Homo sapiens: one gene and its partners. The protein of the gene in region 5 purifies or fractionates together with the protein of the main gene of each other region. This does not show direct contact. Each region holds a gene or a part of one and is shown on either strand. Other genes may lie near its edges. The genes, in order: ABHD17B, SAMHD1, TAMM41, TTK, FAM174A, PDXDC1 and LCLAT1.

What was found.
Region 1: the proteins of FAM174A (region 5) and ABHD17B purify together in Homo sapiens (affinity purification with mass spectrometry; 2 studies listed by BioGRID and IntAct, with this or other methods). This does not show direct contact.
Region 2: the proteins of FAM174A (region 5) and SAMHD1 purify together in Homo sapiens (co-immunoprecipitation; 2 studies listed by BioGRID and IntAct, with this or other methods). This does not show direct contact.
Region 3: the proteins of FAM174A (region 5) and TAMM41 purify together in Homo sapiens (affinity purification with mass spectrometry; 2 studies listed by BioGRID and IntAct, with this or other methods). This does not show direct contact.
Region 4: the proteins of FAM174A (region 5) and TTK purify together in Homo sapiens (affinity purification with mass spectrometry; 2 studies listed by BioGRID and IntAct, with this or other methods). This does not show direct contact.
Region 6: the proteins of FAM174A (region 5) and PDXDC1 purify together in Homo sapiens (affinity purification with mass spectrometry; 2 studies listed by BioGRID and IntAct, with this or other methods). This does not show direct contact.
Region 7: the proteins of FAM174A (region 5) and LCLAT1 purify together in Homo sapiens (co-immunoprecipitation; 2 studies listed by BioGRID and IntAct, with this or other methods). This does not show direct contact.

The regions. Positions count from the first base shown.
Region 1 is NC_000009.12:71,908,394-71,912,396, forward strand, and holds the start of ABHD17B (alpha/beta hydrolase domain-containing protein 17B), read right to left. Parts: upstream 2,801-4,003; 5' UTR 2,241-2,800; intron 2,124-2,240; exon of another isoform or gene 1-2,123. Other genes in the region: uncharacterized protein C9orf85, read left to right, coding at 3,342-3,443. UniProt on the Homo sapiens protein: Hydrolyzes fatty acids from S-acylated cysteine residues in proteins. Has depalmitoylating activity towards DLG4/PSD95. Has depalmitoylating activity towards GAP43. Has depalmitoylating activity towards MAP6. Has depalmitoylating activity towards NRAS.
Region 2 is NC_000020.11:36,913,709-36,917,208, forward strand, and holds part of SAMHD1 (deoxynucleoside triphosphate triphosphohydrolase SAMHD1), read right to left. Parts: intron 3,342-3,500; coding exon 3,241-3,341; intron 3,123-3,240; coding exon 3,014-3,122; intron 1-3,013.
Region 3 is NC_000003.12:11,812,386-11,815,885, reverse strand, and holds part of TAMM41 (phosphatidate cytidylyltransferase, mitochondrial isoform a precursor), read left to right. Parts: intron 1-3,500. UniProt on the Homo sapiens protein: Catalyzes the conversion of phosphatidic acid (PA) to CDP-diacylglycerol (CDP-DAG), an essential intermediate in the synthesis of phosphatidylglycerol, cardiolipin and phosphatidylinositol.
Region 4 is NC_000006.12:80,039,149-80,042,648, reverse strand, and holds the end of TTK (dual specificity protein kinase TTK), read right to left. Parts: intron 2,954-3,500; coding exon 2,777-2,953; intron 2,454-2,776; coding exon 2,369-2,453; intron 2,044-2,368; coding exon 1,946-2,043; intron 531-1,945; coding exon 447-530; 3' UTR 122-446; downstream 1-121.
Region 5 is NC_000005.10:100,534,009-100,538,173, forward strand, and holds the start of FAM174A (membrane protein FAM174A precursor), read left to right. Parts: upstream 1-1,365; 5' UTR 1,366-1,522; coding exon 1,523-1,956; intron 1,957-4,165.
Region 6 is NC_000016.10:15,016,526-15,020,025, forward strand, and holds part of PDXDC1 (pyridoxal-dependent decarboxylase domain-containing protein 1), read left to right. Parts: intron 1-594; coding exon 595-643; intron 644-795; coding exon 796-897; intron 898-2,314; coding exon 2,315-2,440; intron 2,441-3,500.
Region 7 is NC_000002.12:30,530,746-30,534,245, reverse strand, and holds part of LCLAT1 (lysocardiolipin acyltransferase 1), read right to left. Parts: intron 1,131-3,500; coding exon 932-1,130; intron 1-931. UniProt on the Homo sapiens protein: Exhibits acyl-CoA:lysocardiolipin acyltransferase (ALCAT) activity; catalyzes the reacylation of lyso-cardiolipin to cardiolipin (CL), a key step in CL remodeling.

The DNA of each region.
Region 1 (4,003 bases), on a different chromosome or scaffold from region 5:
AAAAAAAAAAAAAAAAAAAAGGCCACAAACTCACCTTCCCTCTCTCCAACTCACAAGGCTGGATTCGACAGGCAAATGGGGCAATGTATGTGAGAAATTTTAAAGAGTAGGAAGGGTAGGGGGAATTTTCAGAATTAAGAGCAAAACTTTGGATAAATCAGAAGTAAAATCTACCAGTAAATAAACCAACCAATAAAATATACTCTATTTTCTTGTCATCACTGCTTCTAAAGATCTTAACACCAATCTTAATACGGAAGAAATTTTAATTCTTAAATGATGGCATAGGGAGAGTCATTCTCCTTATCTTTATGCTAACTGTTCATCAAATGATTGAAATTCATAATATCAAAACAAAGTAAGAGCACTGCATTAAAAAGTATTCTCATTTAACTTATATCAATGTCACATAACCAGAGTAACTGTTGCTTACATGGTTCTCACTCCCCTTTTTATAAAGTGAGCAGGTGGCACATTTTATCAGCCCTATATTACAGATGGAGAAAACTGACTCAGATGTGGGATAGCGTGCCTGGAGTTGTAGACCAATTCAGTGTCAAACTTGGAACAGACACTAATTGCTTAATTCTTCTGTGTTCATTAAGCTACTAAAAACATTATTTTTTCATGATGTTTTTTGGTGATTTTGTTTGTCCCAGGAAACAGAAAATTCTTTGTCAGCAGTCATTTCATAAACATTTCAAAATGGGCAAAGATACTCAAGGAAACAAGCTACTCATCAACTAGAATACTGCACACTAAGGGACAAAATTAAAACTGCCTAGCCTGCTAAAAATCTAATCCTGTCCTTGCCAATTAACCTTATTAACACTAGAGTAGGAGAAAAGAGAGGTCAAAATATAGGTGAAGGTGCCATTCATTTCCTTCTGGATTTCAAATGATATGACAATTACTGCACAACAGAGATTTTTACCTCTGCTGTTCCTTAAGTAACACGACCCCTATTCTCCAAATAAAAACTTACCAACAAGTTGAGCAGTCTCAAATTAGAATACTAGCAATCATGACAATTTTCAAAATACTGGCTATCATTAGATGTCACCCAACTGAAATTCATGCTATAAACATATGTAGAGAAACTCTTTACGGAAAAAAGTTCATTTTAATGTAAATTTCCCTGTTAATCTAAACAGATTAACGTTATTACAACATGTATCTGGCTTTCTACTCCGACTCATTAGGTATTATAGTTTCATATGTTGGCACAAGATCTCCAAAGATTTATTAGAGGCATAAAAAAATTCCAAATGAATCATCTATAGATCAAGCATCATATATCACAAAAAGTATTAAACAGGAACACATTTCATAAACAGCGAAATTTAAAGGTCACCCTCTGTATTCCGTTATTCATCCTTTTGCTTACCAAATCTACTTCACACTGACTTAAAGCATCATTTACAAAAAATTCTCTTCTGGCATTGGCAGAGATCTCACCAAAGATCAAAGATCTGAACTTTTTTTTTTTTTAAACAAAAACCCCAGGTTAAATACACTCTTTCCTTCACGAGAGCCCCCACACAGTACAATCTAATTTGACATAACTTTGTTTCGGGGTTAAAAAAAATCCCAAACAAAACCTTTAAATTTTCCAATTCAAAAACGATTCCTGATAAGCCTACCTTAGAGTTCGAAAACAAATAAGATTAAAGCCCAACCATCTAAAGAAAAAGAACCCTACGACAGCCCCACCGGAATACACAAATCGCCAAGCCCCGTGCAGATTCAATCTAAAATCGCGCCCGACAGAGATATAAGGACATTCAGGAGAAAGCTTTTAGGCACCCGCGAATCTCTCAGTGCGCCAGTGAGGGGAATGGGAACCTGACCCCATCTTTTCATCCACTGAGAGAAAAGCAAAGGAAATGAAATGGAACCCTTCTCTTCACCGAGGAGGACCAAAGACCTTCTTAGAGTGTCGGTCGGTCCTCCCTCCCCCACCCCCTGACTCCGGCCGCTCCACGGACCGCAGGGACTGTCCTACCGCTCCCCTTCACGCAACCATCAGAGAATCCTCTCAAAAACACAGACCCGATGAGGAGTGGCTTCCCCGCCTTTCCCCTGTGCCGAGAAGGGATCCCGGTCGCCAACAACAAAGACGCTTCCCGCTCCCCTCCCCCCGCCGGCCCGGGCTCGTCCCTCCCGCGCTGCGGCTCCCGGCCTAGCGCCCCCTCCCCGAGCCGGGCTGCGGCGTCCCCAAACCCCGAGGCCGCACGCACCTGCACCTGAGCGGCCCGGGCCGAAGCGCCGGGCAGAAGGGGTCGAGAGAGAACCGCAGCCGACGCGCTGTCCTCCACAAGGCGAGATCCGCGCTCCGGGCGCCGTCCGACTCTCTCCGCCTGCAGACTGGCCCGACAGAGGAGCGGGGACCAGGGCTACAGCCCCCGGCGCCGGGGCGAAGAAGGACGGCGGCGCCCCAGGGGCCCCGCTCACGCTCCCGAGTCTCGCCTCGCGCCGGCCCTGCTCCTCCACAAGAGCTCGCGTTCTGCTGACTAACGGCCCCGGTGCGGGGCGCTGGAGCGGCCGCCGCTGCCCGTCGGTTGCTCTCGGGCCTCACGTCCCGCGCGGCCGTGGTCGCAGCCGCCGCCGCCACCGCCTCCCTTTCTGGCACTGCAGACGCCACCCAGACCTAGCCAGGTCTTCCTTCTCTTTAATCCTGCTTTCTTTGCTCCTCCTCAGCCTGCCAAGCGCGAGGCTCGTTCCGGTAGCGGGAGGAAGACTGGAGGGGAACGGAGGGGACGAGCACAATCCCCACTGAGCCAGGAGTTGGCCACTGACTGGAGGAAGGTGCCAAAGCTGACCCCGGCTCCAGCCTACTAGCGGGCGGGGGGAGAGACGGAGCCCAGCCTTGCCTCACTTCCACCAATCAGAGGCCGCCCGGCAGGGTGGGAGGCGCTCTGAGCTCAAGGAGAGGCTGAGCTCGCTCAGCAGGAGGCGGGGATTGCGGAAAAGAAGAACCAATAGGAACAAAGGTTCCCCGCCCCTTTGATTTGATGGACTACACATTCGGGCCAATGGGGGAATTCTCATTTCGAAGAAAGTGGGACTTGTTCTCCGGGTTTGAGAAAGAGGCTGCGCGGAGCCGGAGGGGTCGAGGCTGCGCCGCGTGGAGTGGCTTGGCTTAACAGCAGGGAGGGCAGAGCGATGCTCTTTGACCTCCCAGAAGAGTCACGTGGGCTGACCCAGAGCCGGGGCGGAAAGGCTGCGTTTGTTTCTTCCGGGTCATTGACAGAAGCGTCAATTCCTGGGAGTAGTTCGTTGGTTTTCTTTCCCCTCATCCTTTTGCCTGCTCCCGGCGAGGGGTGGCTTTGATTTCGGCGATGAGCTCCCAGAAAGGCAACGTGGCTCGTTCCAGACCTCAGAAGCACCAGAATACGTTTAGCTTCAAAAATGACAAGTTCGATAAAAGTGTGCAGACCAAGGTAGGAACCTGCCTGTTGCACCGTCTTTGACTCCAGGAAGGAATGGCTCACTGGAGAGGGGAGAGAGGAAATGAGAGGAGTCGGCTGGGGCGAGTGTGGACCGCAGCCCAGAGTTAGTCTTGGCTGCAGTGCAACTCTTTCTAAAATGTTATTCTCACGCCCTTTCTTTGACCTGGACATGTTGTCTCCTGGTAAATATTTGATGGTCAGCACACTTAACTAATTGCACAGAGTGAACAGGACCCTAATGAAATCTAAGGTGCAGATGGGGCAGTTACGTCGTTCAGCGTTCCCATCTGGATCACATTAGCAGAGGGAAACGAGGATTGTGGCATGAGTGGCTTTTTCAAATTTTACACCAAGTTTATGCAGCTACGATTTTTTTTTCCAAAAACCCCAAGCCCATAGAGGAAATGTGAATGATTAAGCTGTCTTAGGCTGTCCTCACTAGTATTGTGTGAAATTTCTGTTTTGTAACAATTGTTTTGAAGATAAAAATATTTGGTTAATGTAAAAATACTTGTTTTGCTGTTTATCTTTAGCAGGACTTCTGTAAAGTC
Region 2 (3,500 bases), on a different chromosome or scaffold from region 5:
TAACTCTAGGAAATAGGTATTACTATTCTTATGTTCTTCATTCTTGACTTTTTTTTTTTTTTTTAGACAGTCTCGCTCTGTCACCCAGGTTGGAATGCAGTGGCACACAATCTTGGCTCACTGCAACCTCCACCTCCCAGGTTCAACCGATTCTCGTACCTCATCCTCCTGAGTAGCTGGGATTACAGGTGTATGCTACCACGCCTGGCTAATTTTTGTATTTTCAGTAGAGACAGGGTTTCACTATGTTGGCCAGGATGGTCTCAAACTCGGTAGCCCAAGAGATTTGCCCACCTCAGCCTTGCGAAGTAGTGGGATTACAGATATGTACCACCACGCCTAGCCCTTCTTGACTTTCTATAGTATAGTACTATACTACTTTTTGATTACATGACTGCCATCTAACAGGGACCTAGTGATTTCAGCTGTTTAACTACAGTTGACCTTTAACAACACATGTTTGAACTGTGAGAGTTCACTTATACAGATTTCCTTGCCCCGCTGCCACCCCTGAGACAGTAAGACCAATCCCTCCTGTTCCTGAGCCTACTTAATGTGAAGACGATGAGGATGAAGACCTTTATGATGATCTACTTCCACTTAATGAATAGTAAATATACTTTCTCTGCCTTATGAATTTCTTTCTTTCTTTTTTTTTTTGAGGTGGAGCCTTGCTCTGCCGCCCAGGCTGGAGTGCAGTGGCGCAATCTCGGCTTACCACAGCCTCCGCCTCCCGGGTTCAAGTTATTTTTCTGCCTCAGCCTCCCAAGTAGCTGGGATTACAGGCACTCGCCACTGCGCCCAGCTAATTTTTGTATTTTGAGTAGAGACGGAGTTTCACCATGTTGCCCAGGTTGGCCAGGCTGGTCTCGAACTTCTAACCTCAGGTGATCTGCCCACCTTGGCCTCCCAAAGTGCTGGGAATACAGGTGTGAGCCACCACGCCTGGCCTTGCCTTATGATTTTCTTAATAACATTTTCTTTTCTCTAGCTTACTTTATTGTAAGAATACAGTAGATGGGGCGTGGCGGCTCACACATGTAATACCAGCACTTTGGGAGGCCAAGGAGGACAAGTTGCTTGAGGTCAGAAGTTCGAGACCAGCCTGGGGAACATAGCGAAACCCTGTCTCTACAAAAAAAAAAATAGAAAAATTAGCCCGGTATAGTGGCATGCGCCTGTGGTCCCAGCTATTCGGGAAGCTGAAGTGGGAGATTTGCTTGAGCTGGGAAGGTGGAGGTTGCAGTGATCTGAGATCGCACCACTACACTCCAATCTGGGTGACAGAGTAAGATCCTGTATCCAAAAAGAAAAAAAAGAATATGGTATATGATACACGTAACATTCAAAATAGGCTGGATGCAGTGGCTCACACCTATAATCATAGCACTTTAGGAGACTGAGGTGGATGGGTTGCTTGAGCCCAGGAGTTTGAGACCAGCCTGGGCAACACAGTGAAACTCCACCTCTGTAAAATAAATTTCAGAATTAGCCAAGCATAGGCCTGTAGTCCCAGCTACTCGGGAGGCAGAGGAGGAAGGATCAGTTGAGCCCAGGAAGTCAAGGCTACAATGCACTATGATAGTGCCACTGTACTCCAGCCTGAGTAACACAGCAAGACCCTGTCTGGAAAGAAAACAAAAAACATACAAAATGTGTGTAACTGACCATTAAGGTTATCAATAAGGCTTCTGGTCAACAGAAGGCTATTTAGTTAAGTTTTTGGGAAGTCAAAAGTTATATGCAGGCCAGGTACAGTGGCTTACACCTATAATGCCAGCACTTTGGGAGGCTGAAGCGGGTGGATCACTTGAGGTGAGGAGTTCGAGACCAGCCTGGCCAACATGGTGAAACCCTGTTTCCACTAAAAAGACAAAAATTAGCTGGGCGTGGTAGCATGCATCTGTAAACCTAGCTAGTCACAAGGCTGAGGCAGAAAAATCACTTGAAGCCAGGAGGCAGAGCTTGCAGTGAGCCGAGATCATGCCACTGTACCCCAGCCTAGGCAACAGTGGGAGACTCCATCTCCAAAAAAAAAAAAAGGTAAAGAAAAGTTTTATACAGATTTTCAACTAGGAGAGGGGACAGCACCCCTAAACACCATTTTGTTCAGGTGTCAACTGTATAAAATTTTTCAACACTAATACAGTGATTAAAAATGAGACTCTGGGCCAGGCACCTTGGCTCATGCCTGTAATCCCAGCACTTTGGGAGGCCGAGGCGGGCAGATCACGAGGTCAAGAGATTGAGACCATCCTGGCTAACACGGTGAAACCCTGTCTCTACTAAAAATACAAAAAAAATTAGCCGGGCATAGTGGCGAGTGCCTGTAGTCCCAGCTACTAGGGAGGCTGAGGCAGGAGAATGGCGTGAACCCGGGAGGCGGAGCTTGCAGTGAGCCGAGATCGTGCCACTGCACTCCAGCCTGGGTGACTGAGCGAGACTCCGTCTCAAAAAAAAAAAGAGAGAGACTCTGGAACCAAACTTTTTGGGTTGAAATTCCAACTCTACCACTTGTTAATTATATGCCTTCTCTGTGCCTTAATTTGCTTGCCTGTTGAATGGAATAATAGTATCTATCTCACAGGGTTATACGGAATGAGTTGATCCGTCCAAAGCACTTAAAATGATGCCTCATACAAGCCAGGCATGATAGTGTGCACCTGTAGTCCCAGCTACTTGGGAGGCTGAGGAGGGAGGATCACTTGAGCTCAGGAGTTCAAGACTAGCCTGGGCAACACAGTGAGATCCTATTTCAAAAAAAAAAAATGCAACCAACCAAACAAAAAAACCCCAAAACCAGTGTCTAACTCAAAACTTAATAAATGTCCATGTTAATTTTATTATTATTTAATAATGCAGTAGAAGGGAAGAGACTAAAGATATTTACAAATCCTAGGAATTAAGTAAAGAGACTGACGATTTACCAATTATTCCAAATTGTTAAATGGTTATTTCCAAATTTCAGACCAGGAACAACATTCTTCTTATTGCCTCCTCTGGCACAGCTTACCTTATCTCTAGCACAAATACGCAACTCATTGTCTACTTCACAGACACGGGCAAACTTAATAAAGCGCTTGTAATCAAAATTATTTTGGATTCCAAGATGATGGCAGTCCCTAGAAGGATTCCAAAACAGAGAGATGAAATTTTTCAACAAGGAAGCTGTACCTTAAATAGTAATACTAAATTTATATAAATATTTTAGCCAACTTTTCAGAAGTGTTCAGTGCATACCTGGCAAAATAATCCCATTTGTCCACATCAATGCCATTTCTTTTATTAGATACTATCTCATAAAGGAAGCTTTTGTTTTCAGGACGCCCTTTATATGGCCACTGGAAGGCAAGAAAACCCACTGGAAGTTTTAGGATAGGCACCAAATCTATTTATAAACAAAGCAAAGCAATTTTATTAATCTGTAAAATATAAACAGATACCTGACTGGGAATATGAGATAAACTAGAAGGTTCTATTCTTTCTTTCTTCCACTTCAT
Region 3 (3,500 bases), on a different chromosome or scaffold from region 5:
CAGCCCTGCTTACCAGAGGCAGCTGCTTTCGTCTCTATAGCTGATTCTTCTGATATTCACCTCCATGTTCTAAATAATATGCTTCGACTATTATTTCTTGATTTTTTTTCAATCTTACACTTTATTTTTGCCATCCTGGAAGAAGGGGATTTTTTTTACCGTCTTACACTACCCCATCAATTCTTATACCAATTACACACTCACACACATGCACTTAGCACACACATTCTCTTCCCCTTCTACCTCACGCCCTCATGCTTCACATAAAGTTACTTCATATTTTTTGTTAGCTTAATATTCAATGTTTATTTTATTGTGACAGCCTTTTCTTTATTGATGAGCTGTGGCATTATGAAGTTCCTTTTCCTGTACAACTTTGTTTCTCCTGGAGTTAATAGTTGTCTTATTTTTTCAGTTGCTTAGGTCAGTCATCCTCAAACTCTTGACAGATCCGTAAAACTCTTCCCATTATAGACAGATTTATTGGGTATTTTCTGTTTCTTGTTTCTCACAGGAATGTTTTTCCTGGAGCCCCCTGCCCTGTTCCTTTCTCAACTGGTTGTTTTCTAGCTCACTGCACAGCCGCACTCCTCCACCTTCCCTTCATTATCACCCTGAGAATTCCCTTTGCCTCCCCCGTGCTAGTTTTTGGTTTTGTGGGTCTTGCATTTTCCTCTTCCACGGTTTATACTCTGATATTAGTGAAGTTTGTCTTTTATTACCTTCTTAAAGGGTGTGAGGGAGGCAAGTTTTTGAGACTATATACCTCTGAAAATTCTACCCTCCCTTTGATAGATAGTATTGGCTAGATATCAAATTCTAGGGTGGAGATAATTTTCCTTCTTTATTTATGTCTGTTTTCCATTCATTATTCAGTCACTTGGTGGGCTCTTTCTTTCTTTCTTTTCTTTCTTTCTCTTTTTTGACAGGGCCTTGCTCAGTTGCCCTGGCTAGAGTGCAGAGGCGTAATCCCAGCTCACTGCGACCTCAAACTCCCAAGCTCAAGTGACTCTCCCACCTCAACCTCCTGAGTAACTACTGGGACTACAGGCACGCGCCACCACGCCTGGCTGGTTTTTGTGTTTTTAGTAGAAACAGTTTCACCATATTGCCCAGGCTGGTCTCAAACTCCTGGGCTCAAGCCATCCTCCCACCTTGGTCTTCCAAAGTATTGGGTTAACTGGTGTGAGCCACAGCGCCCAGCCTCAGTGGGCCTTTTCTATCTGGAATTTTATAAGCTTCAATTCTAAGGAATTTTTTTTATTATTTCTGTAATTATTTCTTCATACCCATTTTCTTAGTTTGTTCTTCCTGGGATTCCTGTTAGGTGGTTGCTAGACCTCCTGGTTTAACCTTTTTTCCTTTCTCTCTCTCTCTCTCTCTCGTCTCTTCGTTTATTAAATTTAGCTTTATGGGAGAATATTTCTGATTGGTTTTCTAACACTTCTACTAAATTTTTAATTTTCCCAAAATGTTCTTTCTTATAGCTTCCTATTCTTGTATTATGGATGCATTATTTTCTCCTAATCTCTTTAATGATCTTTATTATAACTTTTGAAGATTTTGTCTTGTTCTCTCACACTGTTTTCTTTCTCTTAGTTCCTCTTGTCTGTTTTTACTCTAGTCTGTTATGTTAGAAGCTTTTTTCAAATGTCTGAGTTTCCTTCCTGGCCTGATTTTTTAAATTAATTAATGAATTAATCAATTTGAGAGGGGATTTCACTCTGTCACCTAGGCTACAGTATAGTGGCATGATCATAGCTCACTGCAGCCTTGAACTCTTGCACTCAAGTGATCCTCTCACCTCAGCCTCTTGAGGAGCTGCGACTACAGGCCCATGCCACTATGCCCAGCTGATTTTTTTATGTGTGTGTGTGTGTGTGTGTGTGTGTGTATACACAGGTGTGTGTGTATGTGTGTATATGTATATATACATATATATACACATATATACACACATATATACATATATACACACATATATACATATATACACATATATACATATATACATATATATACATACATACACACACACACACACACACACACACACATATATTTGTACCCATATGATCTGAGACATTAAATTTTTTTTTGTAGAGACAGGGTCCCACTTTGTTGGCCCTGGCTGGTCTCGAACTCCTGGGCTCAAGCGATCCTCCTGCCTTGGCCTCCCAAAGTACTGGGATTACAGGCAAGAGCCACCGTTCCTGGCTCTGGCCTGTTTTTAAAGAATGAGGCACTAAAATACAGGCTGGAAGTTCTTTGTGATATATCAGGCTTGTCAACTGGTGGGCTTGACTATAGGATTATGAGGCAAAGACCTAGCTATTTTGTTTTGTTTTGTTTTTTTGAGATGGAGTCTTTCTTTGTTGCCCAGGCTGGAGTGCAGTGGCGCAATCTCGGCTCACTGCAACCTCCGCCTCCCAAGTTCAAGCGATTCTTGTGCCTCAGCCTCCCAAATAGCTGGAACTACAGGCATGCACCATCACACCCAGCTAATTTTTGTATTTTTAGTAGAGATGAGGTTTCACCATATTGGCCAAGCTAGTCTTGAACTCCTGACCTCAAGTAATCTGCCCGCTTCAGCCTCCCAAAGTGCTGGGATTACTGGTGTGAGCCACTGCACCTGGCCAAGGACCTAGCTGTTTTATTGGAGGATCTCAAATATCAGTGTCTGTAGAATTTCTCCAGAGATCTTCTATTCTCTGGCTAGAGGACAGGGAAGTATAATGTGTCTGTCTACCAACTTTCTAGAAACTGAACAAGGGAAAAGGGCTAGGAATTTTCTCTAACTATAAAAATAAAGGTATCCAGAATCCTCCCTATGGCCTATAAAAGCCTGCATGATCTAGTTTCGCATCAGTTTCTTTTCCCAGGAAACTTACAAGAATAAGACTGGGGGACTGAGCTACAGCTCCCAGTGCTGTATCTGGCCTTGAGGCTGCAACTGAGACTCATCTTCTCCCATCTCTGCTACTCCTCCAGATTCCCTTCACCCTCATCTATCACTTCTGCTTATCTAGACAGGGTGGCCCAGACCCTCATCTCGGAGGAGTCTGGAGGACCCTGGCTACCGCACTTGTCCACTAACCATCAAAATTGGGCAAGGGGTACTCTAAGAGACGTGTATCAGCACCCCAGCTCCTGATGACCAGGGCCGATTGCTTCTGCCAGTGTAGTGACTCATTGCCTTGTCTGCTGGACTTACGGCATGGGATTCTAAATTAATTGGGTGGCAGTCGTAACTTAAAGTTAATGGGATGCTTACTATGTCCTCTGGTAGAAGCATCCCTTCTCTGGGAACTGGGACCTCTAGACCCACAGATCTAGAGCTGTAGTGATAGGAAGCAAAGTGTTCCCAAGTGGGTCCCTGGGAATGACGATAAGCAAGGTCACTTCTCTTTCTACCCTTGGTCCCCAGGCCCATGTCTTCTGCCAGTTGGGAATATAGTACAGCGTAATGGTGATTGATTCAGGATGTGTAGCACAACTCA
Region 4 (3,500 bases), on a different chromosome or scaffold from region 5:
TTTCAAAGTTCATTTACTAAGGTCTAGTCTCACATCTTCCCTAATCTACTTTTTACTAATTAAGAATTTTGCTGCCATGCCAACAATACATTTGCTTAAAGAAAACAACCTTACAACTTTGAAATGTTAGTGTCATTTTAGCCACAAAACTTTATTTACAAAGTTTTTTAGAATATACTTGCTATCCACCCACTATTCCAAGAGTAAAATGATGTCAAGTAGATTACACAAGAGCATAAAACAGAGAAAACAAGTCTACAATATATACAGTGCCATAAGTGGTTGCTATTTTTACAGTTTTCTTTTAAAGATAATCTACTGAATTTTTTTTGCTGATAACACTTCAGAGTGATGTTGTCTTCAAATGTAGATTTCCACAGGGATTCAAGAGTATAACAGTCCAATATATTTTATAGGTGGTATCTGACATTACGAATAACTGCAAATCATTTTTTTCCCCTTTTTTTTTCAAAAGTCTTGGAGGATGAAGAATTATGACTTTCACCACCACTATAGTGTTCATATAAAGTCTGAAATTAAAAAACACAAATCTGTTTTGCAATTTTTTAGTTAAATGTACTGTCACATCAGTAGATGTATTTTGATGTATTCTAAATATAATACATTTATTTCTCTCTTGTTCTTACAGTTGGGAAATTATTTTATAAACTATTAGAGATAATAAAGAATTTTAAACACGAAGCTTGGCCTTAAGCATTACCTATCATGAGATATAACTCAATCTTTCTATGAGAGAAATATAACAGAGCTACTAATAAACATACATATGAGCCTTCAAGGCCTTCTTTATCTCTTTACTTTTTCTTAAATAAAGCCAGTCTTAGGTAAATTCCTATACAAAATATATTTATTAGGAAACTTTATATTCTCAGATGATAATAAGCTAATAAATAGAAGACATTACAAATTATATAAATATAATAATTAGATATATATTAAAATCCATGTATTTAAAAATGATTTAAGACTCAGCTAACATCTAACTTATGAAGATGGCAGACATCTTTGCCCTCAAGGAACATACAACTTCAGTTATAAAAATAATCCACCTCAACTATAGCTATAAGAGGCTTTGAATAATATATTAGTATAAACTTAAAACATGGAGATACAAAATACAGAGCAATTACAAAACAAATTTGGTCCACTTTTAATTACTAAATCCATTGATTTAGCCATTAGCATTTGAGAAAATTTAAGAAAACAGGTACCTCATATCATATAAATGCAAATATAGTGAATATATAGTAAATTCCTTCAAAAAATGTATTCAAGTTCTTGGCAACTTAGATGGATTTTATATGTATCCAGAGAGCTACGAGTATTGATAGTTTAGGTTCCCATAATTTTATGATAATGTTGTAACTGAAATACATAATTAGTAACTGCTTGTTGGCTAAATCAGTTGGTCAATAAGCATTCACAGGGTTCTAGAAATAACTAGGTGTTTGAAAAATCATGGTATAGATATAAATGGACATTGGGAAGCTAAAAAGCTTGAGACTTGTGCTTTGAGAATTGTGTTGATTGCTGTGTACAGCTTCAAAAAAGCCATTACATGTAATGTCTCTAAGGAAAAAACTGGCTAAAAGGAATGAATTCAAAAGCTGTATTAATAATGGTGCTGAATTAAAAGACACACTATATTCCTATATTAAATGTATTCCAGTTGAGACGTGACAGCAATCTTTTGAATGCACCTTATGTGATGATCTACTTTGAACTGTACTGTATGCAGAAGAAGAATATAAATCAAGTAAATCGATATTTGTCAAAATGCACATGTTAAGTATCTAAATGTAGAAACATGTTTCATAACTGATCTGATGATTGGACCAACTTTTCTTCAGACTACCTGTTTCCTTAAGTGTCGAATTCACTATATAAAACAGTAAAAATTAATGTAAAGAATAGACATACTTACTTTAGCAGCTTTCAAAATGGAGTTAGGAGAATTCAGACCAACAAGTTGGCCCAGAACATATTTCATTTCTTCAGTGGTTCCCTTGGCCATTTGGTTAACTATAAAATAAATCAATAATACACTAGTACCAGTAAGAAAAATATAAGTCCATTGTAAATACACATTTTGTTTAATAGCACAAAGTGATATTCTTATAATTTATCACTGATTATAACCCGTTATCTGGAATAAGTAAAAATAAATACCAGAAGTAAAGAAAAAAAAGTTTATTTACTTTACTATTTATAATAATGGAACTTCCTTAAGGAAAAAGGCAGGCTGACAAAGGGTAGCCAATTTAGATTCTGTCTTTGTTATATTAATAGGTAACAGACTGTTTATACTACCAATCTAGTAATAAACAAATTTTTAAAGAAGTAGTACCTGGATGAGTTTGAATTTGAACATATGGATGAGCCAGGAGCTCAGGAATGGATATCCTCTGTTTTGGGTCCCTTTTTAAACAACACTATTAAAACAAAGATATTTTAAAAGAAAAACAAAGCAGGTTTTCATATATGATATTGATAAAGTATTTTTCCAGATTACATTATATTATAAAAGTTACTTTTTAGATATCCCACTAAAGTATTATGACAAGATTATTTCTCCCAAGGCACTTTTGCAAAATCCCCAAGTATTTACAAGCTTTAAAACATCTTCAAAGTAAAAAAACTAATTCAGTTAGCAATTCTTTTGAATAGAACAGTTATATCTAAGCCAGTTACATAATTCCAATTATTTCAACTATTTCTTTTAAGTAAATAATTAGTTACATGAAATTAATATTACCTTTAACACATCTTGAAGATCTTTCTCTGGAATATCGGGAAATTCAATTTCATGATTAGGATCAATTATGGCATGTAATTTAGAAATCTGATTAATTATCTGCTGAAATGGTGTTTTCCCGTAAGTCATATAGTACAAAATACATCCTAAGGACCAAACATCACTTTTGGGGCTTATCTAAGAAAAAAACAAACAAACACAAAAAAGTTGCTGTTATTTTCATATAAAATGAAAAAACATATATATTAAATATACATATTTAAAATCATAATTAAATCTCAATGAATGTGTACTACATTATGTTAACATGACAAAACATCTTTTTCTAGTTTTCATTTCAGTTGGTTATTCCATCAGAAGATATGAGCTTTACTTTAAATCTTTCTATAACCTCATAATTAAAATATTGCAATTAAGACAAAATATTAAATTCTTCCCAACTTGTGAAAATATAAAATTAAAAAATGTAAGTTTTAAGTTTGTTTTCCCCAGAATTACTGGATTATAATAAATTTTTATATAAGTACAAAGTATGTATACAGTTTCAAAGGTTGCTTAAATTATGCAACCCTTCAGACAAGACCATTGGAAATAATAAATAAGCAATACAACTTTAAACCCAAGCACATATACTATAGAACTATGCGGAGCTTGTGTCCAAAATCCTCAAGTATTTACAAGCTTTAAAACATCTTCAAAGTAAAAAACTAATTCAGTTAGCAAT
Region 5 (4,165 bases):
GTTTCTGGCTCTCTCTCTGTATATATCTACCTGTATCTGTCTCTCTTTTAGCAATGAAAACAATAACTTACTCAAAAGACCCACGTATACCCTTGACAGGCATCTCATTGGTGAGAGGTACATCATGCGGCCACTTCTAGTTATCTGCACAAATTGAAGTTCCATATTACTGAAGTCAAACAGGCAAGGAAGACATTATTGAAGACTACTGCTGTTGGGAAAGGGGATAAAACTCTTCTAATCTCAACTCCTCTAAAAGAAAAAAAGGAGTGGAGAGTTATTAAGAGCTATTTTGGGAAGATCACCGGCCACCTGAGTTTGCTGATTGACTTTACCCAAAGGAAAAGTAAATTTTCTCCTCCATGACAGGAGGTGGTTTTACAACTTGAAGCGAGAAGCCTACAACAGTTAGGTTCCTTTCCTCTCACACAAAATAAGAGATGGCCCACTACCTTCCTTGCTGATTATATTTCAAAGGCATGATGGCTTTCCATACCCTTGAGATAGTTTTCAATTATATAACTGGCCAGAAGCTTTAAAAAATATTTACATCTGAAAAGGGAAGAGAAATAACTTACAATGGTAAAGTTTTCTAAAGTAATTTTTTTTAATATACTTTAAGTTCTAGGGTATATGTGCACAACGTGCAGGTTTGTTACATATGTATACATGTGCCATGTTGCTGTGCTGCACCCATTAACTCGTCATTTACATTAGGTATATCCCCTAATGCTATCCCTCCCCCCTACCCCACGACAGGCCCCGGTGTGTGATGTTCCCCATCCCGTGTCCAAGTGTTCTCATTGTTCAATTCCCACCTATGAGTGAGAACATGCAGTGTTTGGTTTTCTGTCCTTCTAATAGTTTGCTCAGAATGATGGTTTCCAGCTTCATCCATGTGCCTACAAAGGACATGAACTCATTACAAGCAAATGCTCTTTAGAAAGGGAGGTCAGGGACCCATAGGCAGGAAAAAAAGCCTGCTTAAAGCTTGTAATGAAGCTAAGGAAAACTAAGCCCTTCTGGCTTACAGATTAAATGTGTTATTGCAGTTTGACACCAATGAATTCAGATTATGAGTTTCCAATCTCTCAGGGTTCCTGCATGAGAGAGTTGCTGTACATTTTACACAATCTCTTTTTGTCTACTTACTTTCTTAATACGCATCCTTGACCGCTCCTCACTAACAGTGAAAAGAACAATGCTTCCAAAACGGTCACGTCCTCGCTTTTTACACAAGTGCGCGTGCGCACTGGGCGCTAGGCCTCTGACGTCACCAAGTGCATCCGCCCCTACAAGTTAGCAACCGAAGGCGTCCTTAGCAGCAGTGGCCGCTGAGATGTACGAACTTCCGGTTCTCCGGGCAGCTGCCACTGCTGTAGCTTCTGCCACCTGCCACGACCGGGCCTCTCCCTGGCGTTTGGTCACCTCTGCTTCATTCTCCACCGCGCCTATGGTCCCTCTTGGAGCCAGCGTGGCGGGCCTGGCGGCTCCCGGGTGGTGAGAGAGCGGTCCGGGAACGATGAAGGCCTCGCAGTGCTGCTGCTGTCTCAGCCACCTCTTGGCTTCCGTCCTCCTCCTGCTGTTGCTGCCTGAACTAAGCGGGCCCCTGGCAGTCCTGCTGCAGGCAGCCGAGGCCGCGCCAGGTCTTGGGCCTCCTGACCCTAGACCACGGACATTACCGCCGCTGCCACCGGGCCCTACCCCTGCCCAGCAGCCGGGCCGTGGTCTGGCTGAAGCTGCGGGGCCGCGGGGCTCCGAGGGAGGCAATGGCAGCAACCCTGTGGCCGGGCTTGAGACGGACGATCACGGAGGGAAGGCCGGGGAAGGCTCGGTGGGTGGCGGCCTTGCTGTGAGCCCCAACCCTGGCGACAAGCCCATGACCCAGCGGGCCCTGACCGTGTTGATGGTGGTGAGCGGCGCGGTGCTGGTGTACTTCGTGGTCAGGACGGTCAGGTGAGGCAAAGCCTCGGTGGGGCACCCCCGTGGGCCTGAGATACGCAGGCCGGTGATCTCCAGCAAGGCTGACTTCTGTGACCCTTTCCCCCTTCCCCAGCATCAGGGACTCCTGCTTAAGAATATGATATTGACTTTCTTAAAGGCCTGTTACCTTTGGAGCAATTTAAACCTATAACTAATTGCTGCCTTTTGTTTATAAATGAGTGCCCTACCTCCAAATCTCTTCATCTGACCTACAACCCACGTCAGCCTCAAAGGGCACCCTTTCTCTGAAGTGAGGATAATCTTTATTCCCTAGAATTTTGACTACTCTGTCTTGTAATACTTCTACCTTTCTAGTCTAAATTTTTGTATACCTAACTGGTCAAAATTTTGCCAATCAGAATGCAAACTCTTTAAAGACAGGATATCTATTTAGTAGGTTTGTGAGTCTTACAAATTATTTGTACAATGCTGCCACTTAATAGGAAATCAATATATATTTGAGTGGATTAATAGTAATATAGAGGTGCCTTATGGATATTTTATTTTTATAAAATTCAGGAGAAGAAAAGTTCTTCCTTACTATCAGTGTTTCCTAGTATTGCCCTTTAATCTGCCACCTAAGTGGCAGAGAATCACCTTCCTGAAGAGTTGACATACAGAGCCAAGACCTCACCATTAGGAGAAGCCAGCAAAGAGATAAGGTGAGGGAAAGCTGTCTAGCAGTTTATTTCATTATAAAATAAGTGTAGAGGGTAGGTTTGCAGCTTATGTTTGTTTATTGTTTTCAAAATTCACGTTTTTCCCATAAATACCCTCTGTATTGTAATTTAACATATTTCTTTAAACTGATTATTTAAAGCAAAAGTTTCCTTTTAAACAAGTCGTTATTATCATGAATGGAAAACCAACATCACTTGGCTAGTTAAAAAATAGTGTAAGCCAGTGGTTCTTGACATGTGGGCCAGGGAACCACACAGGTGGGAGTTTCACTTAGACCTCTTCAGGGCATCTACAGTATTAAAACTATTTTCAAAATAATACATTCTGTTACAGGCTTATAGGGTACAAGTAGTTCATTGATATTGTTTCAGATTCCACATTGCAACTAATCTTTAAGAAACTGCTTGTCAAGTTTTGGTGTAGTAGTATCATAAAGGAATAACCACTCATATATAAAAAGGCTATTAAAATGTTTCTTTCCATTCCAAGTTTATATCTGTGCGAAGATGGAATTACTTTGTATGCTTCAACCAAACAACACATTGCAAAGGATTTAATGCAGAAGTAAATATAAAAATCTATCCATTTCCTATTTTTTGTTTCTATTTTTTATCTACTCCTATCACCTTAAGCCAGATATTAAAGGGAATTGGAAATAAGAATCTAAATGTCATTCTTTTTACGTTTTTTTCTTTTTTGAAAATATAGTTGTTTTTCATAAAAGTTATGTTAACTTGTAATGTGTTTACTATTATTTTAAATCAGTTGATAAGTATAGGTTTTCTCAAGTTTAATTAATATGGTAAAGTTGATATGTGTAATTCACATAAATATAAGTTATTTTGGGTTCCTGAACAATTTTAAGAATGTAAAGAAATCCAAAACAGCAGGCGTAAGCAATATTTGAGAACCACAGCTGTAAGAAATATTATTTGAGCTAGATATTGTTGGTTCACAAAGGCTAGCAAATCTGCACTCACACTCTAAGTGTTAAAAGCATATTACCACCAAACTGAGACTTTCTTCTTAATATAAAGAAAGATTAAAAGAATATTGAAACAAATTATTTTCCTCACTATATAACTGTTATTTACTGCTGTCTGTACATAGTTCCTATAAAAATGCATGGCCCCTTGAATGTTGTATCTCTTATACATAAAAATGATAAGTATAATGATAATTTGGGGGGAATATTCCTTCCTTGTTTTTTTCCTTTTGCTTCCACCTTTTTAATTATTTTAAATACACATATTTATTACCATTGATTTTCTGTCATTAATGTTGTAAAACTTGGACAGATACAGTCCTTCCAATATGATCCTATTGGATGACTTGGTAACATGATGTGTGTTAACAGCCAAATTCTGAACTATGGCTAATAAAAAGTGCATTCTTTAACCAGCATCTAACATATTCATGCAGTCCAAGTCCTACATTTAGTTGGCTGCCTGGCATCCAAAGCTTGAATGATGCTAACAATGTCTGGGCAGTGTTCCGAACT
Region 6 (3,500 bases), on a different chromosome or scaffold from region 5:
AAGTAGCTGCAGAAACTCCAGCCTTCTTTCCAGCTTCGTGGTCAGCTGGAAGTCCTAACAGAAGTCTCGTATTGAACCAGCCACTGTGGCCAGGGAGAAGTAATCCTCTGATAGTTGAGGTTCTTTGCTCTCCTCTGGAGCAGATAGTGGTGTCTCCTCCCCACAAAGCTCATGTTCTGCTGGAAGAAATGGAGATGGCGCCCTGGAAGGCTATTGTAGGGCCATTAAGAGAAGCAGGGGGAACGGACGTGGGCAGCCAGAGTAGCCCATATCCACCACATCATACAGGGAGGTTTCTTTTTGATCCCTAAGTAAAGAATGATAACTGGAAAATAAGATCCATGAAAGAGAAGAATACTCCCATTATATTAAATGAGCGGGGATAGTTCCTGAGACACATTTTTATTAAAGTGCATTTTCAGGATTTTCCTTCATATGTATAAAGCACACCTTCTGTTGCTGTTAATGAAAGCTAATAACATTAAAAATATACTTAAGTGTCAACTTGCAACAGCACAGCCTTTATTTTTTTAAGTACATGGTGAGTAAGCAACATTAAATAATTAGTTCTTGGACTGGTGTTTTTTCTTCCAGTGTGAATCTGGCAACATTGGCTCTGGGTTATGTCTCCTCATCAGTGCTGGTATGTTGTTGATTTACTGAATATTGGTGTTTTTAAGAATGAATTTAAAGTCACTCAGTCCCTCATGGCTCTTCACAGTTTTTATGAATGGAGGAGGGTGTTAGGTTTGTGTATTCTGATAATCTAACAAAGAGTTGTTCTTGTTTTGGTAGGCTGCAGCCAAATGTGATAGCATGACGATGACTCCTGGCCCGTGGCTGGGTTTGCCAGCTGTTCCTGCGGTGACACTGTATAAACACGATGACCCTGCCTTGGTAAGTTTCCACTCACTGGGGAGGGAGTGGGTGTGGCTAATACACATTATTGGCTTTGGGGGCAAAATCCAGAAAAATACAGGAAAAAGTGAAAAATACCCATAATTTCACTTCTATTTCATTTTTTTAAAGAGAAACTTGTGAGACTTTTTTTAATGACATTTTATGATTGTATAATATTCTGTCACAATTTAATTATTCTCCATTTATGAACTTATAGGATGTTTTCAGAGTTTTGTTACTGAAATAATGAAGCAGTGAACGTCTTTCTGTGTTTCTAATTATTTCCTTAGAATAGGTTCCCAGATGTGGAATGACTGAGTGGGGGAGTTTTAAGCCTCCTGATCCACATTGCCCAATAGGTTTTAACTTTTTTTTTTTTTTTTTGATATGGAGTCTCGCTCTGTCACCCAGGCTGGAGTGCAATGGTGAGATGATCTTGGCTCACTGCAACCTCCACCTCCTGGGTTCAAGTGATTCTCTTGCCTCAGCCTCCCAAGTAGCTGGGATTACAGGCATGCGCCACCACGCCCGGCTTATTTTGTATTTTTAGTAGAGGCAGTGTTTCACCAAGTTGGTCATGTTGAACTCGCGATCTCAGGTGATCTGCCTGCCTCGGCCTCCCAAAGTGCTGGGATTACAGGCATGAGCCATCACACCTGGCCACATTTTTTTTTTTTTTTAATCGTAGTTGTGGGCCAGGCATGGTGGCTCATGCCTGTAATCCCAGCACTTTGGAAGGTTGAGGCAGGCAGATCGCTTGAGCCTAGGAGTTTGAGACCAGCCTGGGCAACATGGTGAAACCTCATCTCTATAAGAAAAAACAACAACAAAGAATTAGCTGGGCATGGTGGTGTGAGCCTGTAGTCCCAGCTACTCATGAGGCTAATGTGGGAGGGCTGATTGAGCCCTGGAGATCAAGGCTGCAGTGAGCTATGATCACACCACTGCACTGCAGCCTGGGCGACAGAATGAAAACGAAACCTGTCACAAAAAATAATAATAATAATGTGGTTCTTGATAATATAGGTCAGCGTGCAAAATAAGGTTTAAGTGATTTCTGCTAAAACACTGCTGTCTTGCTCAGCTAATAATGGCCAGGTGTTTGAGGATGCTCAGAGCTACCTTCGAAGTGGGGAGTCTCCTAGGTTCTGGGATGTGACCCATCTGGGTTTTCCACTGGCTTTTCCTGGCTTTGCCACTCCTGAGCTGTGAACCCTTGGACAAACCGAGGTCTCTGAGTGAAGTTACCTAGAATACTTAGCTCACAGAGTTGTTGGAAGATCACATGGATAATGCAAGCCTAGTGACTAGTATGGCATCTAGCCCACACTAAGTGGGTAGCAAATGGTAGCTGGTTAGTTCTATTATGAGATTGCAATGGCTTTGATTAATAAACCTCTTTTGGCTTTTTTAGACTTTAGTTGCTGGTCTTACATCAAATAAGCCCACAGACAAACTCCGTGCCCTGCCTCTGTGGTTATCTTTACAATACTTGGGACTTGATGGGTTTGTGGAGAGGATCAAGCATGCCTGTCAACTGGTGAGTAGAAGCCTGACATTTAAATGAAAGACTCCTTGGCCACAGCAGAGACAGAAAAACATCTCATTTCTGTACCTTCCATCCAGAGTGGTGTTGTCTGGATTGACTGTCTCGTGAGCCAGAGACTAATCGCCCTGCATGTAAATATTTCTTGTTCAAAGTTCTGGGAGAAAGTGCTGGGTTGTCTGTCCCAGCATTTGTGTGCAGATGAAATCAGATGAAAAGGAACACCACTGTCAGCATGGGATCAGAAAAGAAGTCACAGATGACTTCCAAGGAGTGGAGAAGGGTGCAAAAGGTGGAGGGGTGGGGAGCGAGTGTTCCCCTTGATTGACTGACTACGGTGAGGGAATAGGAAGGTTACAAGGTGGTTATGGAGGGCATGGATATTTTATAAACCAGCTGGCTTGGGTTTCCAAATTGCAGGGCTCTTGGGGACAATTCTAATTCTCTCTCCATTTTAGGTGTGTTCTAATTGTGAAAAATATATAATTATGCTATATTTCAGTGTTTTAGAGCATTCAGGCTTCTATAACAAAATACCTTAGAGTGGGTAATTTATAAACAACAGACATTTATTGCTTACAGTTCTGGACGTGAGAAGTCTCAGATCAAGGTGCCAGGAGATTCCATGTCGGGCCCGTTCCTCATAGATAGTGCCTTGCATGTGGCCTCACATGGCAGAAGGGGTGAGCACAGTCCCTTGAGCCTCTTTCAGAAGGTCACTAGTCCTGTTTGTGAGGGTTCCATCCTCATGCCCTAATGACCTCCCAAAGGCCTCAACTCATTTGCGATTAGGTTTCCACATAGGAATTTTGTGGGGACATAAATATTCAGATCATAGCATTTAGAAAGCAAAAAAACAGGCTGGGCATGGTGGCTCACGCCTGTAATTCCAGCACTTTGGGAGGCTGAAGCGGGTGGATCACAAGGTCATGAGATCAAGACCATCCTGGCTAACACGGTGAAACCCCGTCTCTACTAAAAATACAAAAAATTAGCTGGGCGTGGTGGCGGGCGCCTGTAGTCCCAGCTGCTCAGGAGGCTGAGGCCGGAGAAT
Region 7 (3,500 bases), on a different chromosome or scaffold from region 5:
CACACACACACACACACACACACACAGTAAATCAACTACAAACACCCTTGCTAGTCTATCCTTACTAGTCTATCCTGTGAGGGCCTGCCCTTTGCCCTCACAAATCATAAACCACGTCAGTATACTAATAGAGGAATGGTTTAAGAGGGTACATAGTTTAAGTGAGAAATGTTACCTAGGTAAACCACAGAAGTATAAATGTAATTAACAAGGCTGTCAGGAGGATATAGTGGGTACTTCATATACCCATGTGAATAACTGGTTTGAATATATTTATAATCTTTCCCCTCCCTTTTTCACATTAAGTAGCAAGTTGAGAAAGGAGGCCATTTATTTTTAACATGCAATGTTGAAATATCCCTACTTCTCCAACACACAATGAACATGTTGTATTCCTAGCCATTTAAAATAAACATTTCCAGGAACTTTAATATTATATTATACAAGCGCGATAAAAACATTTTTTAAAAAAAGTTATAGATTGGGGAAGTTCAGAAAGTACCAGCACCTAGCATAATGAATGCTTCGAACCTACATATTCAATTAATACTTACTACATGAATATGAATGAATCAGTCAATGTCAAGTACTTTATCAGCACAGACCAGTTTCTGGCCGAAATCACAAGTACTACCTGCAATAAAAAGTTACTAAACTATTAATTCATATCCTTCAATGCTGTGGTCCTCAGATACTATATATCCATTTCCTTGAGAACAGTTTATTTTCTCTTTCAGAGTAATATTTTTTAAAAACAGATTAAAATAAAGTCATCTGCCATAGCAGATCCACTAAAGACAAAAGAACCAGAGATTGTTTTTGGCCCAGTGAGGAAAAAAATGGAATCGCTTTAATGCTTAAGTCAGTTTTACAGTGGGTGCATTACATCTAAAATGAATGAACCACTTAAAATAATGTGTGAATAACCTACCAAATCCAGGAACACCTTTGAGACTCGCTTTGAGGCAAATTTTCTCCAATCTGAGGTAGCTATATCGCATCAGGCAATTCCACAGGAACATCCAGTCCATTCTTGTCCGATGGTTCATGATAATGACACTTCTTTCTCCAGGAACAAATGCATCCCCAGTTATAATCACTTTTACACCAAACATGGTCTCCAATAATGCCTAAGAAAACAATACAGATATACAGCAAATTAAAGTTATGATTTTCCATAGGTAAATTTTATCATGCCCTATAAATAAATCTTATGATTTCTAACATGTAAAAGTTAGTATTTCCCATGATCCTTGCTTCTATAATAAAAAATTGAGTGGTGAGGTTATCTAGAAGAATGAGAATATCAAGCACTATTTCTATTTTAAGCTTCTGTGATGTCCTAATTAAAAAATGCTGATTGTCCTTGAAATCAAGATATCTTATTAAGCAAAAAGTATAAAAGGTGAATATCAATATTCTACTGTGTAATATTTTAAGGATATAGATATGTAACATTATTACCTTTTTTTCTAGAAAGAACAGTCAAAGAATTAGCACTGGGTACAGGGGAAAAAAAAAAATCCCGGAAAGGTAAACTGTTCACTTTATAGCATCCTGTACTATGATGTTTTAAAAACAAAAACATAGATCTTATTTATTTTGACACTATGTAAAGAATAAATTAACTATACATCTACTAAAATACTACAAGCCTTAGTACCTAGAAAATAGTAATGTTCAAATAATTGCTGAATTTCCTTAATTTGCTTTTCTGATGGGCCAGGTATATAATACATATGAAGTATTTAGAAAAACAATATATTATAGACTTATGAGTTCTTGAAAGTAAAATAACAGATTACAATAAAAGCTGATTATTGATTTCAAACTCTTCTTTGAATTCTCAATTTACATGTAACAAATTTACTAGTTAATATTTGACTTATTAATAAAGAGAGAAATTGATCTAAAGGCAAATATACGATACAGAATCAAAAGTTCTCTTGGCGAATATCATGATAATCTTGAACAAGGTATAGCCAATAGACAAACTGTGGTATACTCATATAATGGAAAAATGATACAACAATGAAAGTAGATGAACTACAAGTACCTACAGCAACATGAAAGATACACAGAAGCATAATTTTGAAAGACAGCAAAACAAACAAAAATATATACAATAAATGTCAATATATAAGACTTTCTAAAAGATTAAGATATTTTAAAGATGATTATATAGATGCTAAAATTATAAAGAACAAGAAGAAAATAACTATCTTAAAAGTCAGATTAATGAATACTTCTACCAAAAGGAGGATGTTTTCATTGGAAGTCTAGGTAGCTTGCTGGAGAACTGACAATGCTGTATTTCTTGACCTGGTTGACAGTTACACGCAAAATTTTTCATTAAATTGTACATTTGTGTTTTAATAACTTTTCGGTATGTTTGCTATACTTCACAACAAAAAGGCATTTTTTTAAAAATGCAATATGAAACAGTAAGACTTTGAAAAACATAACAGGATCAATAAAACATAGGTTCAAAATAATATTAGCTAAAGAAATATACTAGAAAGTAAAAAGAAGTTAGAAAAGTTATATGTCCAAATTGTTACAGAGTCAAAGTGTTAACATCCTGATACAAAATCATTTGGGCTAAGTAGCTACAGATATCCCATAGGTCCATTAAGTTACTTTCCCACAGCTGAGGTTCACTTTCAGCATGGGTATTTAATCCAGTTATCTATTATGTCCTAGAACGATGGCCTCCAAGAGGTCAATAAAAATGTATTTCTCTTAAGCTGTATATAAAGATATGTCAATGTGTACACATACTTTGCTAGGTAAAATGCTTGCAGTTTTCATCAAATTTTCAAAAGGGTCCATAACCGCTCAACTAATTATAACCCCTACTCCAAAAAGTCCCTTGAAAGTGAAATACCTACATGGAAGACCTCCTGGTAAAAAGGATCATGGCAGAGTCCTACAGGTGTGGATCCACAGCAAAAAATGTCCCTTTTTCTTTTTTTTCTTTTGAGACGGAGTCTCACTCTGTCGCCCAGGCTGGAGTGTAGTGGCGCGATCTCGGCTCACTGCAACCTCTGCCTCCCGGGTTCAAGTGATTCTCCTGCCTCAGCCTCCCGAGTAGCTGGAATTACAGGTGCCCGCCACCACACCCAGCTAATATTTTGTATTTTCAGTAGAGACAGGATTTCACCACGTTGGCCAGGCTGGTCTTGAACTCCTGAACTTGCGACTCGCCCGCCTTGGCCTCCAAAAGTGCTGGGATTACAGGCATGAGCCACCGTGCCCGGCCAAGAGTTAAAAATCTTAAGCCTATAAATTCCAAACCTCAAATCTAAACCTATATATGCAATCTCTAATATATGATACCTATAGATCCCAAACAATCCTTTGCTTTTCATTATGAAAAATAACATAAAAAATCCAAGACTGGGATGGGTGTGGTGGCTCACATATGTAATCCCAGCACTTTGGGAGGCTAAGGCAGGAAGATCGCTTGAAGCCAGGAGTTTGAAACTAGCCTAGGCAAC